Linked DNA regions of Homo sapiens: all the other regions are reported to be linked to region 1. The links are microRNA targets in miRTarBase. Many come from high-throughput screens and were not tested one by one. Region 1 holds a microRNA gene; each other region holds the end of a gene's coding sequence. Distances are between the middles of the regions.

Region 1 (3,095 bases):
GGGGAAGAGACTGCAATTATCAAGGAAGGGGAAGATATTTCAGAACCACGGTTTCCACTGCAAACGGCAATAAAAAAAAAAGGCAGTCTGTGTCATCAGGATATGGGGGACGACGTTGTAGGGCATCACAAAGATGTGCAGTGAGTGTGCACTTGAAGCTCTCGGGGCAGGATGAGACGATGGAGCAGAAAGTAAGAAAACCTGTGCCTTCCTTGCTTTCTTCTGCTCTTCCCCCTCCAGGAGAGGAAGCTGAAGAAACTGGGGGAGGGGCGGAATGTTATCGTTCTCCTATTGAGGGTATATAAGACAGGCCTTAGGGTTCGCTCGTCCCCAGTTAGGAGGGTCACGGAGGGAAGAGGAAGAGAGAACCCCTAAACGTTACCCACCTCTGCTCAAAAACAAAAGTAAGGGGGTAATTATTAAATCCAGATGGCGCGCCCCTAAAGGCGCCCCCAGGTCACTCATCCCCATTTCCAAGCGGAAGGGCTGGGATAAAGGGGATGGAGGGTCGGAGGCTGGTCAGGGACAAGGCCCCACCCCCCGACTTAGGAGGGAAAGGGTGCCCAAGCTCCCAGCTGTCCCCTCCTACCCCTCACCTCCCGCCTTGGCCACCCCCACTTATCCCCCCTTCCCTTCTCTTCCCTTCCCTTCCTTTCCTCCAGAGCCTGAGGCAGCCGCGGGGGAGGCGGCCGCTCCTACCTCCCCTCACCTACTCTGTCCCCACCCCCACTCCGCTCCCACCTCCCGCCCGCCACGGGCCGGTTACCTGCTCGTCGAAGCGGCTGACCACGGCCTGGACCCATTCCACCGGCCTGTGCGCGGCCATGTCCTCCCCGCGGCCGGGGGGCGGCGGAGGGAAGGGTGGGCCGGCGCCCTGGGCCGGGAAGAGGGCGGGGAGCGGAGGCTGAGGTGAGGGAAGAGGCAAGGAGAGGGTCTGTGGAGTGCAGGCTCCCAGTGTTCCCACGGGGGTGGGGATGGGGGGTCAGCGCCGAGCGGGAGGGGGAGAGGGAAAGGGGGCGTTGGCAAGGAGGCTGGGGGGAGGGGGATAGGGGAAGGGGACCCGGGGAGGGGAGGGGGCCTCTTGGTCGCTCTCCCCACTAGCGCCGTCTCCCCACAGCCATCACAGTCCGAGACGCCGCCATGACACCCCACCGGAAGTGGGATCCTTTCCACGGCCCGGGGAGAGGGAGCGCGAGCGAGCTAGAGATTGAGAGCGCGGCTGGGAAAGGGGAGGGGGAAGCGAGAGGGAAGGCGGCCTGCCGCGCATGCGCCCGCGCCGGCCGGTTTCATTAATGAAAAAGCGAGTCCTCCTGGAGGTGACGTCATCTAACTCCTCTGGGCCGTCTGGCGAGCGTCCCTCACCGCCGTGGGGCTCACCTAGACTGGCGCTGGGCTCAGCTGGCGAGTGCCAGAGCTGACCCGGGAGCATCCACTCCCATCCCCACCGCCCCCTACAGCTGTCCCCTCCCCCGCCGGCCTCCGGGTTTGGATTGCTCCCGGAGTTGGAAGTTAGGGCGCCCTGGGGCTAGCCTTTCTCCCAGCGCGCGGATCTCTGCCGCTAATCTCCTGGGGAGGCTGTGCTCTCAGCTTAAGCTCTCAGAAAAAATAAGGTACACGACCTCCGATTTTCAGGTTCTTCGTAGCTTGGTAGACTGCTGAGAAACAAAAAAGGAAGGCCAAAGAGAGATTCCGTGATTTTTTTTTTTTAGAGGTCGCTTAAATCCCAATGCTAGACCCGGTGGCAATCAAGGTCTAGCCACCAGGTCTAGCATTGGGATTTAAGCCCAGCTTTCCTCTGCAAAACTCATAGCCATCCAAGTTAATATAACTATTGCACAGTTGATGAGAGATTCAAGTTTCACCACCCTCAAAACACCTTTAAGGCCTTGCATTCATTATTAATTCAATATATTCATCGTCTTATTTAAATCCTTGAACAAACCTTTTCAATACATATCATTAACTTCATGAACTGATGAATACGTCACGTCCCCACCCCCGTGGGAACGCTGGGAGCCTGCACTCCTCCCTCAGACCTTTGATTTGCCCAAGGTCTGAGTTGACAGGTGGCAAAGTCAGGATGTAAACCAACGTGGTTTAACTCCTAGAACAATAGAGGTAGACTATGGGTCTCCTAAAACAAAGTCCTTCCCTATACCTCCAATACCAGAGTTGAAAGGATTTCATGTGTAATTGGGTTGTGCCAGTTTTCCAGGAAGAGGATTACATCCAAAACAACGGATAATCTATGTCTGACATTGGACTTTGGAATGACTAATTTTTTTTTTTTTTTTTTAAGACAGAGTCTCACCCTGTCACCCAGGCTGGAGTGCAGAGGCGCGATCTCGGCTCACTGCAACCTCCGCCTCCCGGTTGAAGTGATTCTTCTGCCTCAGCCTCCCGAGTAGCTGGGACTACAGGCATGCGCCACCACAGCCGGCTAATTTTTGTATTTTTAGTAGAGACGGTGTTTCACCATATTGGCCAGGCTGGTCTTGAACTCCTGACCTCATGATCCGCCCACCTCAGCCTCCCAAAGTACTGGGATTACAGGTGTGAGCCACCGCACCTGGCCTGGAATGAGTAATTTTAAAATTTGTCTTCCTCGATACATTTTACCTAGGCAAATGTTTTTGTTTTTCAGAGACAAGGTCTGACTCTGTGCAGTGGAGTGCAGTGGCTCAATCATAGCTCACTCCAGCCTCAGACTCCTGGGCCGAAGTGATCCTCCCACCTCAAGCTCCTGAATAGCTGGGACTACAGGTGAGTGTCACCCTGCTTTGGCTAATTTTTTTTTTTTTTTTTTTTTTGGTAGAGACACAGTCTTGCTATGTTGCCCAGGCTGGTCTGGAACTCCTGGCCTCAAGTGATCCCCCTGCCTTGGCCTCCCAAAGTGCTGGGATGACAGGGGTGAGCTACCACACAGGCCCCTAGGCCAATGTTAAAATGAATTTACACATTCCAAGCACGCGCTAATCAGCCAGTTAAGCCACACAGACACTGGGTGATAAGGGAGAACAAAACTAGAATTTTAATTTTCCTACAGAAAAGCCACAAAGCCAGTAGCCCACATACAGAGAGATATATCCTTGAGA
Region 2 (3,095 bases), not on the chromosome of region 1:
TGACCATGAGGTGACAAACCAGCATGCTGTAGAGGACAGAGTGGAAAGAGAAAAAGTCTACGTCCTTGATAGCACCAATGAGCCACTGTCCCAACCCTATACTGCCTAATTCTAGGCTATAAATAGGATAGGCCTTTTTTTTTTTTTTTGCTTAAGCTAATATTAAATATTTGTTTAACTAGTTTACTGTCACCTGCAAGCAGAACATATTCTGAAATGAGAGACAGCAAGATTGACAGTGAGCAAATTAGCCTGAAGGCTATTACAGTAACCCAGAAAAGTGATGATGATGACTTGAGGGAGAGTAATTATAGGATTAGAGAAGACAGAATAGATTTGAAGGAGCGGGAGGTAGAGACAATTTTGTTTTAGGCACATTGACATTGGCATATCTATGGGATGTTAGGTGAATATAACTAGTAAGTAGAAATAAAGGTCTACAGCACTAGAGAGATATGGGGGTTGAAAATATGAATAATAAAACAAATGGTGCCTGAAGCCAGTGAAGTCTGTTAAATGAAAAATGAGTGTGCATATAGAATGAGAAAATAGGACTAGGGATGAAACTTGAGCAGCCTCAGCATTTAAGGGATTCAGAGCAAGAGAAGAAAAATGAAGAATAACAAAAGCAGGAAAAATAGAGAGCAAAGGGATAAGTGAGTCTCAAGGAGAGAGTGGTGAAGAGTCAATAATGACATAAAAATTCAAGTAGGGGCTGGGTGCGGTGGCTCACGCCTGTAATCCCAACACTGTGGTAGGCTGAGTCGGACAGATGCTTGAGCTCAGGAGTTCGAGACCAGCCTGGACAACATGGTGAAACCCTGTCACTACCAAAAATACAAAAAATTAGGCATGGTGGCGGGTGCCTATAGTCCCAGCTACTTGGGAGGGTGAGATGGGAGGATTGCTTGATCCTGGGAGGTGGAGGTTGCAGTGAGCTGTGTTTGTGCCACTGCACTCCAGCCTGGGCAACAGAGCAAGACCCCATCTCAAAAAAAATTAAGCAGGTATGGAGGCCAGAATGTCACAAGACAGAGAGGACTTGAAAGTAGGGAAAAAAGGGACAATATTTACTTTTGTCAAAAAGTAACAATTACTTTTTAAAGAAGTATAACAATTATAGGAAGGAGAGAGAAAAAATAGTTCAAGGGAAGAGGCCAAGTTAAGGAAAGGTTTTTGTCTTGTTTTGTTATTGTTGATTTAAGACAGAGAAGACCTGCAGCTATGTAGAGGTGGAGGAAAGAAACTACAGTATCTACTACCCTATTCTTCTAACCTATTCTTCTAATTTGCTCACTGTAAAAAGAGAAACCGAAGACTAGAAATTAAACAGGGTGGAATATGGTCTTAGATGGGAAGGAATGAGGTCAAGAACACAAAGAGAAGCATGTCTTAGAAAAGGGGGATGCATGGCTGAAAAGAGGTAAGTCTTGAAGGTAGATGGGAAGAAGTTTTGGGAATGGTCATATCTAATAATTTAGTTTTTTCTCTATGAAATAGGAGGCACAGTCAACTTTGACAGTTCTAAGAGGCTTGAGAAGAATAAAACGTTTGTAATACCTCTTCCAGGGAACACAATAGTAAACCACTTAGGAACCAGTAGAAGGATTGCTAAGCAGTATTAGGAAGCCTGTGTAGCATATGGCCCTCTCAAATAGGTAGAGATGTTTTTAGATATTTAAGAGGAATTAACATTAACAAAACCAAGGGACAAAGCCAAGCTCAAGTCCCATAAAACATGGATATTTTATTCCAGCTCTAGGAAATGGGAAAAAAAAAAAAAAAAAAAAAAAAAAAAACAGAGGGAAACACACCTTTCCATACACCATTCTAATTTAACTAGCATTAATCTGGGAAAGCTAGAGCAGAAATATATGTTTATATGTATAAATATGTATGTATTTATACATATATATGTATAAATATGTATGTATTTATACATATATGTATAAATATGTATGTATTTATACATATATGTATAAATATGTATGTATTTATACATATATGTATAAATATGTATATGTATTTATACATATATGTATATGTATTTATACATATATGTATAAATACGTATTTATACATGTATAAATATGTATGTATTTATACATACATATATATATATGTATTTTTAGATTTTAATCTCACTAGAATTCATGTCTTCATTTTTTTTTAAGTGCCCTTAAAGGTCATCAAATGCAAGCTAATACTTCTACCTAAGTCTCCTCATCAATCATTTAATATTGTTTACACTGCATTCACAGTTTGTGTGTTAACCACTTATGTAATTTATCAAATGGCATATTTGGAAATGTAAGGGAGAAACTTGGTTTAGGTAATACTCTATGTATCAGTTACCCATTACATGATTTATTTTCATCATTATTTGCAACGCCACACATCTTGTAGTTTTCTGTGTAGTCTCTGCATGCAGTCTACTTCAGCTTCTAGTGCTGTACATATCTATATCTTCTGGGTGGGACTGCCCGTGATCCATGAGCTTGGGGTCAGGCATAAACTGGGTTGCACCTGATAAAGTATTAAAATGAAAAGAAAAATTAGTCACTTAACAAATTTATTTTTGATACTGGGAAGACAGCAGCGAACAAACCAGATAAAAATCTCTAGTGACACAGACCTAACATTTGAGTTAGGTGAGACAGACAAACTAATTAAATATATATCAGATGGTGGTTAAGTGCTATGTGAAAAAATGAAACAAGGAAGGATATATGGAGTGCTTAGGTGATTTGTAATTTTAAATAGGGCAGCCAGGGAAAGCCTTCTGGAAAGGTGATACATGAGCCGAGAACTGAAGGAGGTGAGGGTGTGCACCCTATAGATACCAGCAGGCAATGCCTTCCAGGATGAGCAGACGGCAAGTGTAATGGACCTGAGGTATGTCTGAGGAACCAATATGGTTGAAACACAGTAGACAAATGTGGTGTATGTAGGGGTGGCGGCAAGGCAGTGAGATGATAGGAGATGTGATCAAAAAGACAATGGAAAGCTAGGTCACACAGGGCCATGGTAAAGATTTTGGCTTTAAGTGAGATGAGAAGCTACTGGACAATTTTGAGTAGAGGAGTGAATGATGC
Region 3 (3,095 bases), not on the chromosome of region 1:
GGCATTTGATGTTTGCTAAATAACATTAGAAAAAGCCAGGACAAAAACGATCTGTCATCCTGAGATTGAGTTAAACTTGTCACGCCCCTTGTTACTTCCTGGTGTGTCATTAGTTCGATATATGCCTTTGCTCTCCCTCAGTAACAATAAATGTATTGGATTTTTTTTAAGGGCCGAGAAGCAATGGAATGGGTAATACATAAATTAAATGCTGAGATTGAAGAACTGACAGCCTCAGCAAGAGGAACCATAAGGACTCCAATGGCAGCAGCAGCGTTTGCAGAGAAGTGATCGTGACAGTTGGTAGACAACATCGGGTACTCCAGGTCTCTCCAAACTGACTATATATTTATTTGTTATTTTAAAAATACAACTATATTTTGGGTAGTTTTTTTTTTTTTTTTTTTGATAAGTTGGTGTAAGGCTATGTGACTTGATCAAAACAGATGCAGGGCCTCTAAATAAAAGGGATCATCTGAAATTAATGTTGTTTGAAATTACTATCTGATTTTGAGGGTTCCAGTATTTCTGTGAAAATTCAACAAGAACTCCTTGGAAACTGGTATTGATATTCAGTCTCCTTAAGGTAGATTTTTCAAGCTTTTCATACATTGGAACTCCACCTGACTTTGGACCAACCCCAGAACAGAGCAGAGCCACCTCCTATAGACGCCCATTGCCCTGCTGCTGTACACTTCAGCAGCTTGCACAAGGGAGCTCACTTAAAAGGAGAAATTGTGTAGTTTTAAAATATATTTTGTGTAAAATACCTTACTATGCTATAAACCACCATTAAAAACCAGTGTTTTGATTTGGTACTTAAATATTTTTGGAGTGAAAATTATCACTAAAGTAACATGACTCCAACAAAAGTATGGTTTCATTATAAAAGAGTACTGTATTGATTTGCCCAAGTTTTGTAACTTAGTAAAGGTATTAACTTCCTTGGATTTGTACTTTGTGATTTAGTATGCTGTATCGTGGGCTGGTTATGTTAACTGAAAAAAATAAAGTCATTACCTGAGTTTTGCAGTGCTCTAACTTAAACAGAAGAACAGCTGTTCACATCTTTTAGCATTTTACATTTGCCTAACTTAAAAATTGCCATGTGTCAAAATCATGGTTTTGTAATTGCTAAGGCATGATATGTCAGGTTATTTGAATATAATTACTTTTTGAAGTAATTGTGACCACAAAACATCTTTTTTACATGAAGGAGCTGTGTATCATTTGAAATTACTCAAATGATGTCTTGCTCTGAGGCATAAATCCCAGGTACTTAGTGTTTTTAATAATATGGTGCCACTGCAGGATTTGGGGGCGGTGGGGAAGAACAAGCATAATGGTAGGGGGAGGCTTGGCCTGAAACTAACCACTGAGTGAATTGCACTGCAGGTTTTACTTAACGGGAATTCCTTATTTGGGATGTCAAGAGGGCAGCTGCAAACTGAAAAACAATCCAGTAAATGTACTTTGTTTTATGTATTGTAGCAGGCAATTAACTACTAAATAATAGCTTTGACATTTGCAATTGTTGCATAGAGACTATTTTTGCTAGAAGATGATTAGCTCTTGCCTTTATTTTACAGTGCTTAGTGTGATAAACTTCTAGTCATGTTTCCTATCCAAGAGACCAGTTAATATATGTACATAAACCACAGAAATAGTATAACACACTATTTTTAAATTATCGTTTTCCTACTTAAATTTTGTTTAGCTTAAGACTTCTTAGGACATTTGTAAAAGCAGGTTAAATTTAATAAGGTTTCTGATTTTTTTTTGTAACCGGAGATAGTTTTTACAAGTGAAATAACATTTCAGCTAAATAAAACATCGCTAAATAATTGATATTTGATGAAAATCTGCTTTGTATAATTTCTGTAAATTATCCTTGTTCTGAAAAAGGTGTAATGCCCTAATATTTTTAAATCCTTATCCTTTGATTTTTTAAAAACTGACCTATTGATAAAACTATAAATTTTCATTTTCCAGTGCAGTTAGTTACCTTTTTAAACATAAATGCACAACAAGCAAATGAATTTAAGAGAACTAAACTGGAATAAGTGTTCATAAATGAAACCCTTGGACTATTTAATAAAGTTGAAATGTGAATTAAGGAAAACTTTTGTTAATAAAAACTTTCTTTTAAGTGATGTTTTTCCTGATTATAATTTCTTTTTAGTAATTAAAGGTGAAGGGCAAAGGCTTTTTTTTCTTTATGAGAGAAACACTTTAATTCCTAGACTGTGAGCCTTCACTGCGTTGGGTTAGTTTCTCTAAATCACAGGCTCTGAGATGAGCATTTTCCCGGCCGCCTGGCAGTTCCCTGTGCCTCCAGTGGGTTTTCCTCACATTTTTCTTCCCATCCATTCCGGGCAACAGTGACAACTGTTGCCTTACCCTCCGTCTTGTCGCACATCGGAAGCAGGTCCTAGAACTACAGAAAACGCTAGGGGGTCCTCCACTGGGTTTCCAGGGTTTAGTGTCACTCCGAGAAAGGGGGTGCCCTAAGAGCCTTTCTAAATCTCAGCTCTCAGGACACGCTTGTCTGTCCACAGATTTAAAAAAGCCGGCGCCGTTTCCCTGAAGCGGGCGCAAAGCCAGGCCCTCGGGGCGGCCGTGCCCGCGCCGCCTCGCGTCCTCGCTTCCCGAAAGCACGCGGCTCAGTGGTCCTTAGCGAGCGGGGACACCCCGGCCTTCTTGCCCCCGTCGTCCCCGCCGGGGTAATACGGAAGGTCGGGGGACACACGCCCCGGGAGCTCTTGGAGCCAATAGGTGGGCGCGGCCGGCCGGCCCGCCCCGGGATTGGCACCCGCAGTCCAGACCGCGCGCGCCCATTGGCTCCCGGCGCCGGGGGGCTTCCGCGGCAGGGCAGCAGGGGCCGTGCTCAGGGGCGGGGCCGGGTAGGAGGCGGTGATTGGCAGGTCCGCACGCCCCGCCTCTTCCGCTTCTGTGGTCTGATCTTCCTGCGGCTGAACCGCCCGGCTGAGCCGACATTGCCGGCGTCTTGGCGATTCGGCCCGACGAGCTCCGCTTTCGCTACAGCATGGTGGCCTACTGGAGACAGGCTGGACTCAGGTAGGCCCAGGCCTCCA
Region 4 (3,095 bases), not on the chromosome of region 1:
CTATATCTTTTAAACTTGAGGGACGTTGTTGATTTTTGAGACAAATAGTAAATATACACTAAATCGTTTATTAAGTCTTATTAAGTCCCTCAGGCTTCTAATAGTTTTGAGATTACTTTTGATTATTGTATTCTAATATGGAATTTAAAGGATGGTTATATACTTTGTAAAGATGAGACGGTTTGAATGTGATTTCAACATTGAGGATTAAATGTTTTGTTTTTCTTTAACTGCAGGTTATCTTGTCTATGAATTTGACAAGTTTTGGTTTGAAGAAGAACCAGAAAGCATTATGTATTTCAATTTGTATAGAGAGAAGTTTCATGAAAAGATTAAAGGACTTTTACTGGATTGTAATGTAGCACTTACTTTAAAAGTATAAATCATCCACTGTATCTTCTATTTCTACCACATTTTGCACATTCAACAGAATTTATATGTTGTAATAGGAATTATCTGATCAATTACACTCTTATATATAATTTCCTACAAAAATATTTCAGAAATTCTATTTAAGAAAGCTAGTGGACAATCAGTGTATGTTTACAATTGTTTATACACTGTTCTCCAAAGGTACCTTATCCTTCCAAAGATCCCCTCTGTAGAGTCATGCGAACTACAGTTTGGAACTTGGGACTTAGCCCGTTGGTGTAAAAGTATAAATCAGGTATTTGTATTAAATTGATTAAAATGTGTAAAATCAATTTTCGTTTTTATGTGTTATAGGGTCAAGTTGGTATCTTTTTCAAAGCTCTTTAAGATTTTTTTGGTTTTTAGTTTGGAAATGGCTGTTTTTAATTTTGTCTGATTTTTATTTCTAGGTTAATTAACAGCAAGTGTTTCTTTATGGTTTTCTTTGTTTGCATCTTAATTACATGTCATAACGTTGCTTCATTAGTAGCAAATAGAGCAGAGATACAGCAGAGAGAATAAAGAATTAGGGCCTCCTTTTGGGTTTCTGTGATTATTGAGCATAACTGATGAGAGAATGACAGTATTGGTGACTAGCTTTTTTGTTTTTAAATAACACACTTTAAAATGCCACAGTGTTATTTGAAAGCTTAAAGGCATTTTCTCATCTTCAGTATTTGCTTTTTATCAGTTGTAGAAAAGAACCTTAGTGTTTTCTTCTCTACCTATGTATGCTTATGAAACCGCTCTACCTACATATGAAACTTCTCTACCTATGTATGTTTACGAAAAGAGATGTATTTGCCAAGAAAATCTTGATTATATAAAAGACAAAAAGATTATAAAAGACAGTTTCTGTTTAAGTAAAACTGTCTTTGAAACTTAAGAAAGCTTAAGTTTTAAAAAAATCTCAGTTAAACATCATTGGTTTATTTGACTTACTGTTAACTCTTGCTTCTCTTTGACTCCATGGTGTTTTTAGATAACCATGTATGAACTTTATGTTAATGGTTTGTGGGATACTAAAATAGCTTGAAGATGACTTGATGACTGTGCATTTTATATAGTTTTATTCTCCTAAAATCTCAGGAGGGCAGCAAGTGCTGTCAACGATTATATAGTGATGAGATTTTTATGGGAATGATTTCTTCTTGGTGCGTTTTACACATTTGTACTGATAGCAAAACTAAAGTTTAAAGCAGCAAAGTTTAAGTTCTCCTTAAATCCTACAGAAACCAACCTTTTAAGGACATAATTTCATCTAAAACATGACGATATTTAGCACACCTTTTAATGTGGGTATATATCAAGTGTTTAAGGACTGGCTAGTATGTGATAGAGCAAGACCTGAGACTTTATAAGTATTTGCTCGTGTCTGTTGACAGACCTCTTTCTTTCAAACTTGTTAGAAGAGTGGTAAGACATATCCAATTGGAAAATAAGATGCAGTGTTGTATAGCACATACATTTAAAGTGCTTGCGTTAAAATTAGTTTCTCAATAAGATAAAATTATTTTAAAAATTTGGTTCACTTTATTACAATAGTGGCAATTTAGCTTTTCAGTATTACAGGAATTTAAAAATTGGTTTCTTGTAGGGGACATCTCAACTTTGGGAATATCTTCACTTAATTTTTAAAAAATATTTTCATGCTTTATTGTCCAGCTATACAATATGTCGCAAAATCCTGACAAGTTCATTGTATTAAGGTATTAACTATTACATGGAAAGCAATTCTGTTCATCTTTTGATGTTTGTGTTGAAAATGCTTATCTTTGTGTTTTGATCTTCCAACAGCTGAGAGCTTGAACTGATTTAAACATTTGTCAATATACTTAAGAATGCTTTAAGTAAAGAAGGGGAAAATTTTAAGTAAGTTTTTTCCCTTCTAGGAAGAAAAACTATGATGATGTTAAGAAAATGTCATTATAGAGCTTGCTCAATAATATGTTCTTTAAATCCACCTCCATTTGTACATTATAGGTATCATTCTGTTTTTGCTTAAAATAATCTGCAACCATTTCAGATAGTTTTACAGCAAATTGATCTAAAAGCCACTAATAAATTCTAGGGTTTGAGTCTAGAAGCCAAGCAAACTGTCACCAATGTCAGTTGTAAATTAGAATGCAACATGAGGCTTCAGACTCATGACAATGATATACATGAAAACAAAAATATAATTGTGTCTACCTTCCTACTTTCCCTTTTGACATATGTAGTTGGAATTTTACATAGTCTTAAAATCCATATTTAGAATCTTACCTGTTTCTATAATAATTAGTAAAATGCCAAAGTAGTGATAGAATATTGTGGCATTGAAGTAGCCGAAAAATTGTTAGTTTTAGCATCAAAAAAGTAAATAGATGTTGAAATGAATTTTTGTATGTGCCAGGTTGAAGAGAGTGTGCCAGTGACAGGAAGTAGTCTAAAAAATTAACAGTTATGGTTTTAATAGGATCTGAAAGACAATCTTTAAAGAAATGGGAGAAATTGGGGGTATCAGTGAACCTATACCAACCTCTCTTTGTACATAAATATGGTGATGTAGCTAGATATAAAAATCAGTGTCTTACTGGCACCATTTACAGTTTAGAAAACAATCTTTTTCTTAAAAATGCCCATCTGATTTCTATTTTTAGGAGCTACTTGGATTTGTATGTATTTTTTCTACGTGAAAATATATG
Region 5 (3,095 bases), not on the chromosome of region 1:
TTCCTTCTGGTCCCAGCCCACCCCTGAGTAGAACTGAAATCTGTACGCACAGATCCTTTTAATTTTCCAGATTATAGGTACCCAGTGTGTATTTGATAATATGCCAAAAACTTTGATCATTTCATTTCTCACAGATTGTGAAAGTGTTGAATTTGTATACTCCAGTTAATGAGTTTGAAGAAAGAGTCTCTGTGTCGTTCATTCGTACTATACAGGTAAGAGCTCCCATCTTCTTCTTTGATTCACCAACACAGTCTTTTGAATGGACATTTTGTAATTTATTGAAGGATAATGTGTTATCTTTTATTATCTTATTTTACAATGCACTAACTTTTTTGATAATAGTTAATTGGGAAAATGAAGTGAGTTTAAAACAAAAGTAAACATTCTTCATTAGTTGAGAATTTGAGGGTAGAAATTTTAGTAGAAAAAAGTCTTTTAGATTCAAAGAACTGATGCTCTGTTTATTTTTTTTCCTAATCTTCTCAGATGCGTTTACGAGACAGGAAAGACTCTCCCCAGCTGCTCATGGATGCTAAACACATCTTTCCTGTCACCTTTCCTTTCAACCCATCTTCCCTCGCACTAGAAACCATCCAGATTCCAGCCAGCCTCGGCCTGGGCTTCATTTCACGGGTCTGAAAGTGATGTCCAGGCAAAAATTGACAATACATTTCTTGCCCGAAATAAGAACCCATTATTTCCAGTGAGTTACTGAAAATACATTTTTAAAGAGAAAGTACTGATTATCTCCCAAATGAGAAGTCATTAACTGGAAATCTCCCTAGAATACTTTCATCACTTTGGAAACAAAGATAGGCTCTTTCGTGCTGTGTTATCTTTATAGCAACACTCATCCTTAACCAACTAGGTACCGTGAGTTTACATACAGGAGAATGATGGAAGGAAGGGAGGAAGGAAAGGAGGAGAAAAATGTGTCTTCAGCTGGCAGCATTTATTTTAAATCCTTAGCACTGAGTTTGAATGGTATAAAAAGTATAACTTCCATAGATGAGCTGTTGTTAGGAAGGCACCAAAGAACCTCCTCTGCACTAAACAGGAGAATGGAAAGAAAAGTCTCCATTGAGTACATATCATGTCAGTTTAGTAATCAATTATGTTGATATTGTTAAACTGGTTCAAAGAAATAAACTGGCAATATGTAAAGTAATTCCTCATTTGTGTCACTATGATATAGAGATATTAAAGGAATGTTGGTTTGCTAAATAGTATAGATGTCCATTTGTACTATAGTTTACTGAGCATTTTAAATTGCTGCTACATACTGTCTTCTTAAAATGTAAGTGATATTAGGCACTACAATAAGTTTCTCTTGTCAATTCTGTTTACAATTCAATCAGATCACAGTTTTAACTGGATTATATGCAAATACCTACAGATTCACCTGCACAAGTAGCAGACACTGGAAAGTCATGTAGTAATATGACAAAATGCTTGACATTTAGGGGTAGGATTAGACAAAGTGGCTATTGTTGATGTCATTATTTATTCAGGATGTATTACATTGATGTGCTCATTAATTTTCCCTGGGTGGATATTGCGTCAGGGTACAGTGTTCTGTGAAGTGACTTATTTTTAACTACCAGATCTGATTCCTTCAGTGCATATTTTCAACCTTGACAGGTTTTCTCTCTTCTTAATTTATTAAGAATTAATCTCGGCTGGGCGCGGTGGCTCACGCCTGTAATCCCAGCACTTTGGGAAGCCAAGGTGGGCGGATCACTTCAGGTTAGGAGTTGGAGACCAGCCTGGCCAACATGGCGAAACCCTGTCTCTACTAAAAATACAAAAATTAGCCGGGCGTGGTGGCACTTGCCTGTAATCCCAGCTACTCGGGAGGCTGAGGCACGAGAATCGATTAAACCTGGGAGGCGGAGATTGCAATGAGATCGAACCACTGCACTCCAGCCTGGGTGACAGAGAGAGACACTGCCTTGGAAAAAAAAAGAATCTCACTCACTATCTAGAGAGGATTGTCAGAATATTCACGATTCAGGTCTTGAAACTTTGATTATGCAAAAGAAGGTATATAATAAATATTTCATTATGATTCAGTTTTTAAGGCTTTGCAGCTTCTATAAGTGTTCTCAGATGCCACTAGATAATTTTAAAAGCATCATATTAGAAATACTTTAAGAAGACTTATATAAGAAATAGAAGATTGTTGAATTTTACAGAGGATTTGGTTCATTAAGACCCAGATTCTGTAAGTTTTCATTCTGAAATTCTAGTTAAACATATTCACCATTTTTCTTAGGAATCTTATACAATAAATCCTTCAGGTTGCACAAAAGCAAATTATTAGTTTTCATTAGAAACTCTGGTTCTGAATTACAATCATAGGTTATATAAATTTAACTGTTAGATGGTCTATAAATCTTATTAAAATATGTGCAATATTTATGGAAGTCAAACAGCTTCATATCAGTGATAAAGATTGTTATTAAAAGATAAATACTGTCTGTTAATTTACATGGGCCTCAAGTTCCTCGTTTATAAAATAAGAGAGTTGGACACTGATTCTTAACATCTCCTCCACATTTAAAATTCTCTCTTCTCAGCCCTTAGATTCTAGAGAGAAAAAGCTGCAGTTACTCAGTAAGTCCATTCTCTGATGGAAAGACCAGTGTGTAGTGCCTGTCAATTCCTTAGGATTAATCAAATGTAAAATCACAAGTTTGTGTAGCTGTAACCTTTCTTAAATGTACATGATTTATGTACATGCTTTTAGAAGGTCCTACTATATTTGTATTATAATTAGTTTAAGTAATTTTTATTACATCATGTATTGCTTTATTCAGTTTGAATACATTTATTTATTTATTTGCAGTATCAACCAGAAACACTACCAATTGCATCAAATTCTCCCAGTTTTTCCTGGTTGTCAATGCGGTTTTCAATGCACAATTAAGTCATAGCCATTTGGTTCGTACCAAATGTGTCAGAATCTAACAGCATCCGATAGGCTGTAAGTTGGGGAGTTGCTAAGAAAATGCAACGTGGTACAGGCTGTCCGCCTCAGCCCTGGAAATCTCCCAGACCTCCCCCAGCTTCATCCTGTGTAGCACGACTCA
Region 6 (3,095 bases), 570 kb from region 1:
TAACAGATTTGGAATGAACAGATTTTCACAGAACTCAGGATTCCTGGTACATCAGGCAGTAGTCCTTAAACTTTTGCCCATACGTTGTGGAGCATTTACAAAAGCAATTCTCTGGACAGTGAGCCCTCAATGCCTTTTTATATGTGGCTTCTTGAATAGATCACATTAGAAATTGAGCAGTCCCCTTCCTCAGCTACCAGTGTCAATGCTGGTATGAGGAGGAGCAGTGGGGGCACTGACAGACACTGGTGATTCGTTTCTTTTATCATAGTGGAACTGAGATTTCATTTCTTTTCAGTAGAAAATATTAATCCAAGGGAAGAATTAAAAAAAAAATGGAAACAATGACTGGTGCCTTAAATATAAGACTGTCATTCTTGATGTTTTTCCAGCAATACAGTTAACCCCAGTGTACTTGTAATTTAAAAGAAAAAGACAGTTTTACAGTGATCTCCATTTCAGACAACCTCAAACATGCTGAAGCTGGTCCATCAGCATCTCAAAGAATCTATGAAAAACAGAATTTTCCCCAAATATCAACAGAGTTGAGGAGACAGAGTAGAAATCTATAGCACAGATCATCAAGAAAGAACTTGTGATTTCTCATTATGAGTGTAAAATAAGAGGACAAGAATTATTATTATATTATTTTTTTTTTAATTGATCATTCTTGGGTGTTTCTCGCAGAGGGGGATTTGGCAGGGTCATAGGACAATAGTGGAGGGAAGGTCAGCAGATCAACAAGTGAACAAAGGTCTCTGGTTTTCCTAGGCAGAGGACCCTGCCGCCTTCCGCAGTGTTTGTGTCCCTGGGTACTTGAGATTAGGGAGTGGTGATGACTCTTAAGGAGCATGCTGCCTTCAAGCATCTGTTTAACAAAGCACATCTTGCACCACCCTTAATCCATTTAACCCTGAGTGGACACAGCACATGTTTCAGAGAGCACCAGGTTGGGGGTAAGGTCATAGATCAACAGGATCCCAAGGCAGAAGAATTTTTCTTAGTACAGAACAAAATGAAAAGTCTCCCATGTCTACTTCTTTCTACACAGACACGGCAACCATCCAATTTCTCAATCTTTTCCCCACCTTTCCGCCTTTTCTATTCCACAAAACCGCCATTGTCATCATGGCCCGTTCTCAATGAGCTGCTGGGCACACCTCCCAGATGGGGTGGTGGCCAGGCAGAGGGGCTCCTCACTTCCCAGTAGGGGCGGCCGGGCAGGGGCGGCCGGGCAGAGGCGCCCCCCACCTCCCTCCCGGACGGGGCGGCTGGCCGGGCGGGGGGCTGATCCCCCCCACCTCCCTCCCGGACGGGGCGGCTGGCCGGGCGGGGGGCTGACCCCCCCACCTCCCTCCCGGACGGGGCAGCTGCCCGGGCGTAGACGCTCCTCACTTCCCAGATGGGGTGGCTGCCGGGCGGAGGGGCTCCTCACTTCTCAGACAGGGCGGCTGCCGGGCGGAGGTCTCCTCACTTCTCAGACGGGGTGGCCAGACAGAGACGCTCCTCACCTCCCAGACGGGGTCGCGGCCGGGCAGAGGAGCTCCTCACATCCCAGACGGGGCGGCGGGGCAGAGGCGCTCCCCACATCTCAGACGATGGGCGGCCGGGCAGAGACGCTCCTCACTTCCTAGATGGGATGGCGGCTGGGAAGAGGCGCTCCTCACTTCCTAGATGGGATGGCGGCCGGGCAGAGGCGCTCCTCACTTTCCAGACGGGGTGGCGGCCGGGCAGAGGCTGCAATCTCGGCACTTTGGGAGGCCAAGGCAGGTGGCTGGGAGGTGGAGGTTGTAGTGAGCCGAGATCACGCCACTGCACTCCAGCCTGGGCACCATTGAGCACTGAGTGAACGAGACTCCGTCTGCAATCCCGGCACCTCGGGAGGCCGAGGCAGTCAGGCGTGGCGGCGCTCGCCTGCAATTGCAGGCACTCGGCAGGCTGAGGCAGGAGAATCAGGCAGGGAGGTTGCAGTGAGCCGAGATGGCAGCAGTACAGTCCAGCTTCGGCTCGGCATCAGAGGGAGACCGTGGAAAGAGGGAGACCGTGGGGAGAGGGAGAGGGAGAGGGAAGAATTATTTTTATTCACAATCCAATCTGGCAGCTAAAAGAAAAGCAGTCTTTGGATGTAGAAACCTGGTTTTCTGAAGAGCCCAGCTGTAAGACCTGGCTTGTCATTAGGCTTCAACACTATCATGGAAACACAGAAAACTCTGTTTTTGATTGGTTTACCTGCCTCCTAGGGAGACAAAAGCAACTGAAAACCTTTTTTTTTTTTTTTTAATTAAAAACAGAAAAATGTGTTAGAAAACACAGCACAGAGAAACTGTGGCTTCAGCTCAACCTGACCATGTCACAGAGTCCATCACTGTCAGTCTTGCATTCATCCTGCTGGTCAGGCTAATTATCAAGACAGTCAACTTCTCCCTCCGATGTTTCCTTATTCCAGACCAGGGTGTGAAAGCGGTGGCTGTCAAGAGTCCCTGAAGATGTCCCATCAATGGAACGCATACAGCAGCAACAGGATGGTACAGATCCCAATAACACCCCCTAGGATGAGCGAGTCCCGCCGCTTCCTCAGGTTGATCCTCTGGATCAGGCTGTTTACAGCAGGAAAACGATCTTTGGGAAATCTTTATTAAGGTCATATTTGGAAGAAGCCTCTCTGGCGAAAAGTCGTAGGAATCACAAAAATAGAGATCAGTGGTGTCTAGAAACAGTGATGAAAGGCATGGGGAAGAAACTCACACCAAGGGAATCTTTAGCAGATGCAGTTGCCCAAACCGGGAACGCGCTGCGGCTCAAGGCCCCTAACCAATACACATCTCCCAGTCTTGTGTGTAACACAAATAAGAATAGTAATAGAGAGAGAGGGAGAAGAAAAGGACGATGACAGTTCCCAAGCACTGAGGGCTTACTGCCAGGCTTCAGGTCAGGGTGGGAGCCAGCGTGGCCAGGAATGGAGGAACTCTGGCAGGGAGGCACAGGCATAGCCAGCTCCCATCGCCACCACCACCCATTTCCCTCCCTTTCCTCATTTTCCTTCTCTTTTCCTCTTCTCTCAGGAGACTGGGGAGTTCTGCCTGAGAGTTTGAAGA
Region 7 (3,000 bases), not on the chromosome of region 1:
GAACAGAGTTTGGGTGACATTCCTGAGAACACACAGCTCCGAGATTCACGCCCAGGCACTGTGACTCCAGAGCTCACCTGCCCATTATGCAAGAACATCTGATCTTGGCTGGGAGCAGTGGCTCACACCTGTAATCCCAGCACTTTGGGAGTCCAAGGCGGGCAGATCACGAGGTCAGGAGATCGAGACCGTCCTGGCCAACATGGTGAAACCCTGTCTCTACTAAAAATACAAAAAATTAGCCTTGGTGGCAGGTGCCTGTAATCCCAGCTACTTGGGAGGCTGAGGCAGGATAATCGCTTGAACCAGGGAGGCGAGGTTGCAGTGAGCCGAGATTGTGCCACTGCACTCCAGCCTGGGTGACAGAGCAAGACTCTGTCTCAAAAAAAAAAAAAAAAAAAAAAAAAAGGCCAGGCTCGATGGCTCACACCTGTAATCCCAGCACTTTAGGAGACTGAGCGGGGCAGATCACGAGGTCAGGAGTTCAAGACCAGCCTGACCAACATGGTGATACCCCATCTCTACTAAAAATACAAAAATTAGCTGGGCTCAGTGGCATGCGCCTGTAATCCCAGCTACTCAGGAGGCTGAGGTAGGAGAATCGCTTGAACATGGGAGGCAGAGGTTGCAGTGAGCTGAGATCGCGCCACTGCATTCCAGCCTGGGCAATAGAGGGAGACTACGTCTTAAAAAAAAAAAATCACCTGGGGAATTTTCTGAAAGCTCAGGCCTCACCCCAGATGAATTAGATGTGAACCTGTGAATCTCTGGGCATGGGACCTGGGCTTCCACAGCTTTGCAAAGTTTCCATGGGATTTCAAGGTTGAGAGCCCTGTGTTAGGCTGAGAAGTGGTCAGGAAATTTTATGATCTCCAATCTTGGCAGCCAGTGTGGCAGGATACAGGCCTTCTCTCTGGGTCATCTGGGTTATCTCACAGGGGACCTGCCATTTCTTTCTCTTTTTCTTTTCCTTTCTTTTATATTTTAAAATTTTTTTTTGTAGAGTCAGGGTCTTGCTATGTTGCCTAAGCTGGTCTCGAACTCCTGGCCTCAGGCAGTCCTCTTACCTTGGCCTCCCAAGTTCTGGGATTACAGGAATGAGCCACTGCACCCGGCCTAAGACCTGCCCTTACTCCCCCAAGCTAAACCCAGGCAGCCCAGCCAAGGCAGGTCTTCCCTCTTCTAAACCTGAAAGCCCTGCTGAGCCCCCTCGAGTGCCCCATCCTTATCCCATAGGCCCAGGCTTATACCACTTGGTTATTCTTTATTCTCATGCATTCCAGGATGAGATCAGAGAATGAAGAGGGTCCCGAGGACAGCCTGGGAGAGAAGCACCAGCCTTCCTATTGGCAAGAAATGACCCAGTGCTGGGGGTAGTGAGGGGCCCTATGAGGGTGCCGGGGTCATGCCTGGAGCTGCTGCTGACTCCTCCAGCCAGAGCCGCACTGGTCTGAGCGATCGGGTGACACAGGCTTGAATTTCTCCTGAAGCGTTTGTGTTCTCTGCAGGGGAGAGAGGGATGGTGGAGCTGGCATTTGAAAGACGCTGTTACCAATGTCCTCTCCTCAAACCCTCACATCATGCCCAGGAGGACTTGGACTGGACAAGACCCCACTGGACAGATGTGTAAATGGAGGCTGAAGGCCAACTGCCTTACTCAAGGGTGTTCAGAAGCCAGGAGACCACCTCCTTTCAACCCCGTGCCCAGCTCAGTTGTGTGGCCCAGGGTGCAAATAGAAGGTTTCAGGCAGGACTGGAATGCACTGGTCTTCAGTGAAATGGTTTGTTTGTTTGTTTATTTGTTTGTTTGTTTGTTTTTTGAGACACAGTCTCACCCAGACTGGAGTGCAGTGGCACAGTCTCAGCTCACTGCAACCTCTGCCTCCCAGGTTCAAGCAATTCTCTGCCTCAGCCTCCTGAGTAGCTGGAATTACAGGTGCCCTCCCCCACGCCCAGCTAATTTTTGTGTTTTTAGTACAGATGGGGTTTCACCATCTTGGCCAAGCTAGTCTTGAACTCCTGACCTCGTGATCCACCCACCTCGGCCTCCCAAAGTGCTGGGATTACAGGATTATAGGATTACTGTGCCTGGCGAGTTTTGTTTTTTTTGAGACAGAGTCCCATTCTGTCGCCCAGGCTGGAGTGCAGTGGTGCAATCTCAGCTCACTGCAACCTTCACCTCCCGGGTTCAAGTGATTCCCCTGCCTCAGCCTCTCGAGTAGCTGGGACTACAGGTGCCTGCCACCACACCTGGCTAACTTTTATATTTTTAGTAGAGATGGGGTTTCACCATGTTGGCCAGGCTGGTCTCAAATTCCTGACCTCAACTTATCCGCCTGCCTTGGCCTCCCAAAGTGCTGGGATTAAAGGCAAGAGCCACCACAGCCGGTCAAAAGGGGTTTTGAAGAGGAAGCGTCAAAAAGGACACCTGGGACTGTAGGAGGCAAGAAGCCTGCCCTCGATGGTCTTGCTCCCCCACTCCCCGACCCCAAGCCCTTTGGAGACCCCAGGAGATCTGTGCATTGTTCTGGGCCCTGGAGCAGCCTCAGCCACATCAGAACTTGGCAGGTGTGCCCACCCCTCACCTGGCATCAATCTCCTTCCTCTGTCTTCCTGAACATGGCCAAGGCCTCCGCCAGCACACCATCAGGGTCTAGGATTTTGACCTGGAGGGAAATACCAAGAAGTTGGTTTGGAGAGCATGGAGGACCCAGGCTGCCAGCCTTGACTGGCGCTGCCTGCCGTGTGGGGTGCTGCCAGCCTCATCAGGAGCCACCTCCCTTGCTAGGGATGCCCTGACTGAAAACAAAACCTTGTCTGTTCCCTGTCTGGGCTTGGCTGGGCCTGGCAGATCTGGCCTGGGCATGGCTGGGGATGCTGGCTTCTGTCTCTGTCTGGGTGTGGCCACAGGGCCCTGGTGAGGGCTGCCCACCTCAGGAATGGGGAACTGAGTGGGCTCAGGGGCCTCGTCACGGCCAAAGTCGATCATCGTCCCGCATT

What was found. The annotated mature microRNA hsa-miR-4733-5p reads AAUCCCAAUGCUAGACCCGGUG and lies in region 1 at 1,720-1,741, shown strand. An mRNA with a match to its seed (bases 2 to 7 or 8) in the 3' UTR can be bound and repressed. Matches are read on the target gene's strand: a 7mer-m8 pairs with bases 2 to 8, a 7mer-A1 pairs with bases 2 to 7 and ends in A, and an 8mer does both.
Region 2: the mRNA of APOOL is a reported target of hsa-miR-4733-5p. Seed matches in the 3' UTR shown: 7mer-m8 at 741-747.
Region 3: the mRNA of PRELID3B is a reported target of hsa-miR-4733-5p. Seed matches in the 3' UTR shown: 7mer-m8 at 1,421-1,427.
Region 4: the mRNA of ELMOD2 is a reported target of hsa-miR-4733-5p. Seed matches in the 3' UTR shown: 7mer-A1 at 1,427-1,433.
Region 5: miRTarBase lists MYO5A as a target of hsa-miR-4733-5p. The part of its 3' UTR that is shown has no 7-base or 8-base seed match.
Region 6: miRTarBase lists GOSR1 as a target of hsa-miR-4733-5p. Seed matches in the 3' UTR shown: 7mer-m8 at 978-984.
Region 7: the mRNA of MORN3 is a reported target of hsa-miR-4733-5p. Seed matches in the 3' UTR shown: 7mer-A1 at 1,227-1,233.

The regions. Positions count from the first base shown.
Region 1 is chr17:31,093,041-31,096,135 of GRCh38, reverse strand. MIR4733 (microRNA 4733) reads left to right here and starts at 1,711; the gene lies at 1,711-1,786. It overlaps NF1 (neurofibromin 1), which reads right to left and starts at 1,159. Exons shown (of 58, transcript NM_001042492.3): 1 at 767-1,159. The coding sequence starts at 826. MIR4733HG (MIR4733 host gene) reads left to right here and starts at 646. Exons shown (of 4, transcript NR_186435.1): 1 at 646-909; 2 at 2,645-2,763. LOC124903974 (a long non-coding RNA gene) reads right to left here. Exons shown (of 2, transcript XR_007065704.1): 2 at 3,009-3,095. RefSeq lists silencers at 755-804, 845-914, cis regulatory regions at 770-1,080, 1,307-1,546, an enhancer at 1,149-1,166 and a promoter at 1,154-1,579.
Region 2 is chrX:85,087,021-85,090,115 of GRCh38, reverse strand. It overlaps APOOL (apolipoprotein O like), which reads right to left. Exons shown (of 9, transcript NM_198450.6): 9 at 1-2,526. The coding sequence ends at 2,438. Among named protein-coding and RNA genes, the nearest start is that of APOOL, 85 kb to the right of the region's middle.
Region 3 is chr20:59,032,203-59,035,297 of GRCh38, reverse strand. PRELID3B (PRELI domain containing 3B) reads left to right here. Exons shown (of 6, transcript NM_016045.3): 6 at 172-2,153. The coding sequence ends at 291. It overlaps ATP5F1E (ATP synthase F1 subunit epsilon), which reads left to right and starts at 2,963. Exons shown (of 3, transcript NM_006886.4): 1 at 2,963-3,078. The coding sequence starts at 3,047. It overlaps SLMO2-ATP5E (SLMO2-ATP5E readthrough), which reads left to right. Exons shown (of 6, transcript NR_037930.1): 4 at 172-326. RefSeq lists a silencer at 2,720-3,009 and an enhancer at 3,030-3,095.
Region 4 is chr4:140,549,994-140,553,088 of GRCh38, forward strand. ELMOD2 (ELMO domain containing 2) reads left to right here. Exons shown (of 9, transcript NM_153702.4): 9 at 237-3,095. The coding sequence ends at 382. Among named protein-coding and RNA genes, the nearest start is that of UCP1, 17 kb to the right of the region's middle.
Region 5 is chr15:52,311,243-52,314,337 of GRCh38, reverse strand. MYO5A (myosin VA) reads left to right here. Exons shown (of 42, transcript NM_001382347.1): 41 at 135-215; 42 at 490-3,095. The coding sequence ends at 642. Among named protein-coding and RNA genes, the nearest start is that of MYO5C, 17 kb to the right of the region's middle.
Region 6 is chr17:30,521,778-30,524,872 of GRCh38, reverse strand. It overlaps GOSR1 (golgi SNAP receptor complex member 1), which reads right to left. Exons shown (of 9, transcript NM_001007025.2): 9 at 1-2,619. The coding sequence ends at 2,495. Among named protein-coding and RNA genes, the nearest start is that of GOSR1, 46 kb to the right of the region's middle.
Region 7 is chr12:121,650,143-121,653,142 of GRCh38, forward strand. MORN3 (MORN repeat containing 3) reads right to left here. Exons shown (of 6, transcript NM_173855.5): 4 at 2,933-3,000; 5 at 2,586-2,666; 6 at 1-1,502. The coding sequence ends at 2,592. Among named protein-coding and RNA genes, the nearest start is that of MORN3, 18 kb to the right of the region's middle. RefSeq lists enhancers at 931-1,432, 1,433-1,932.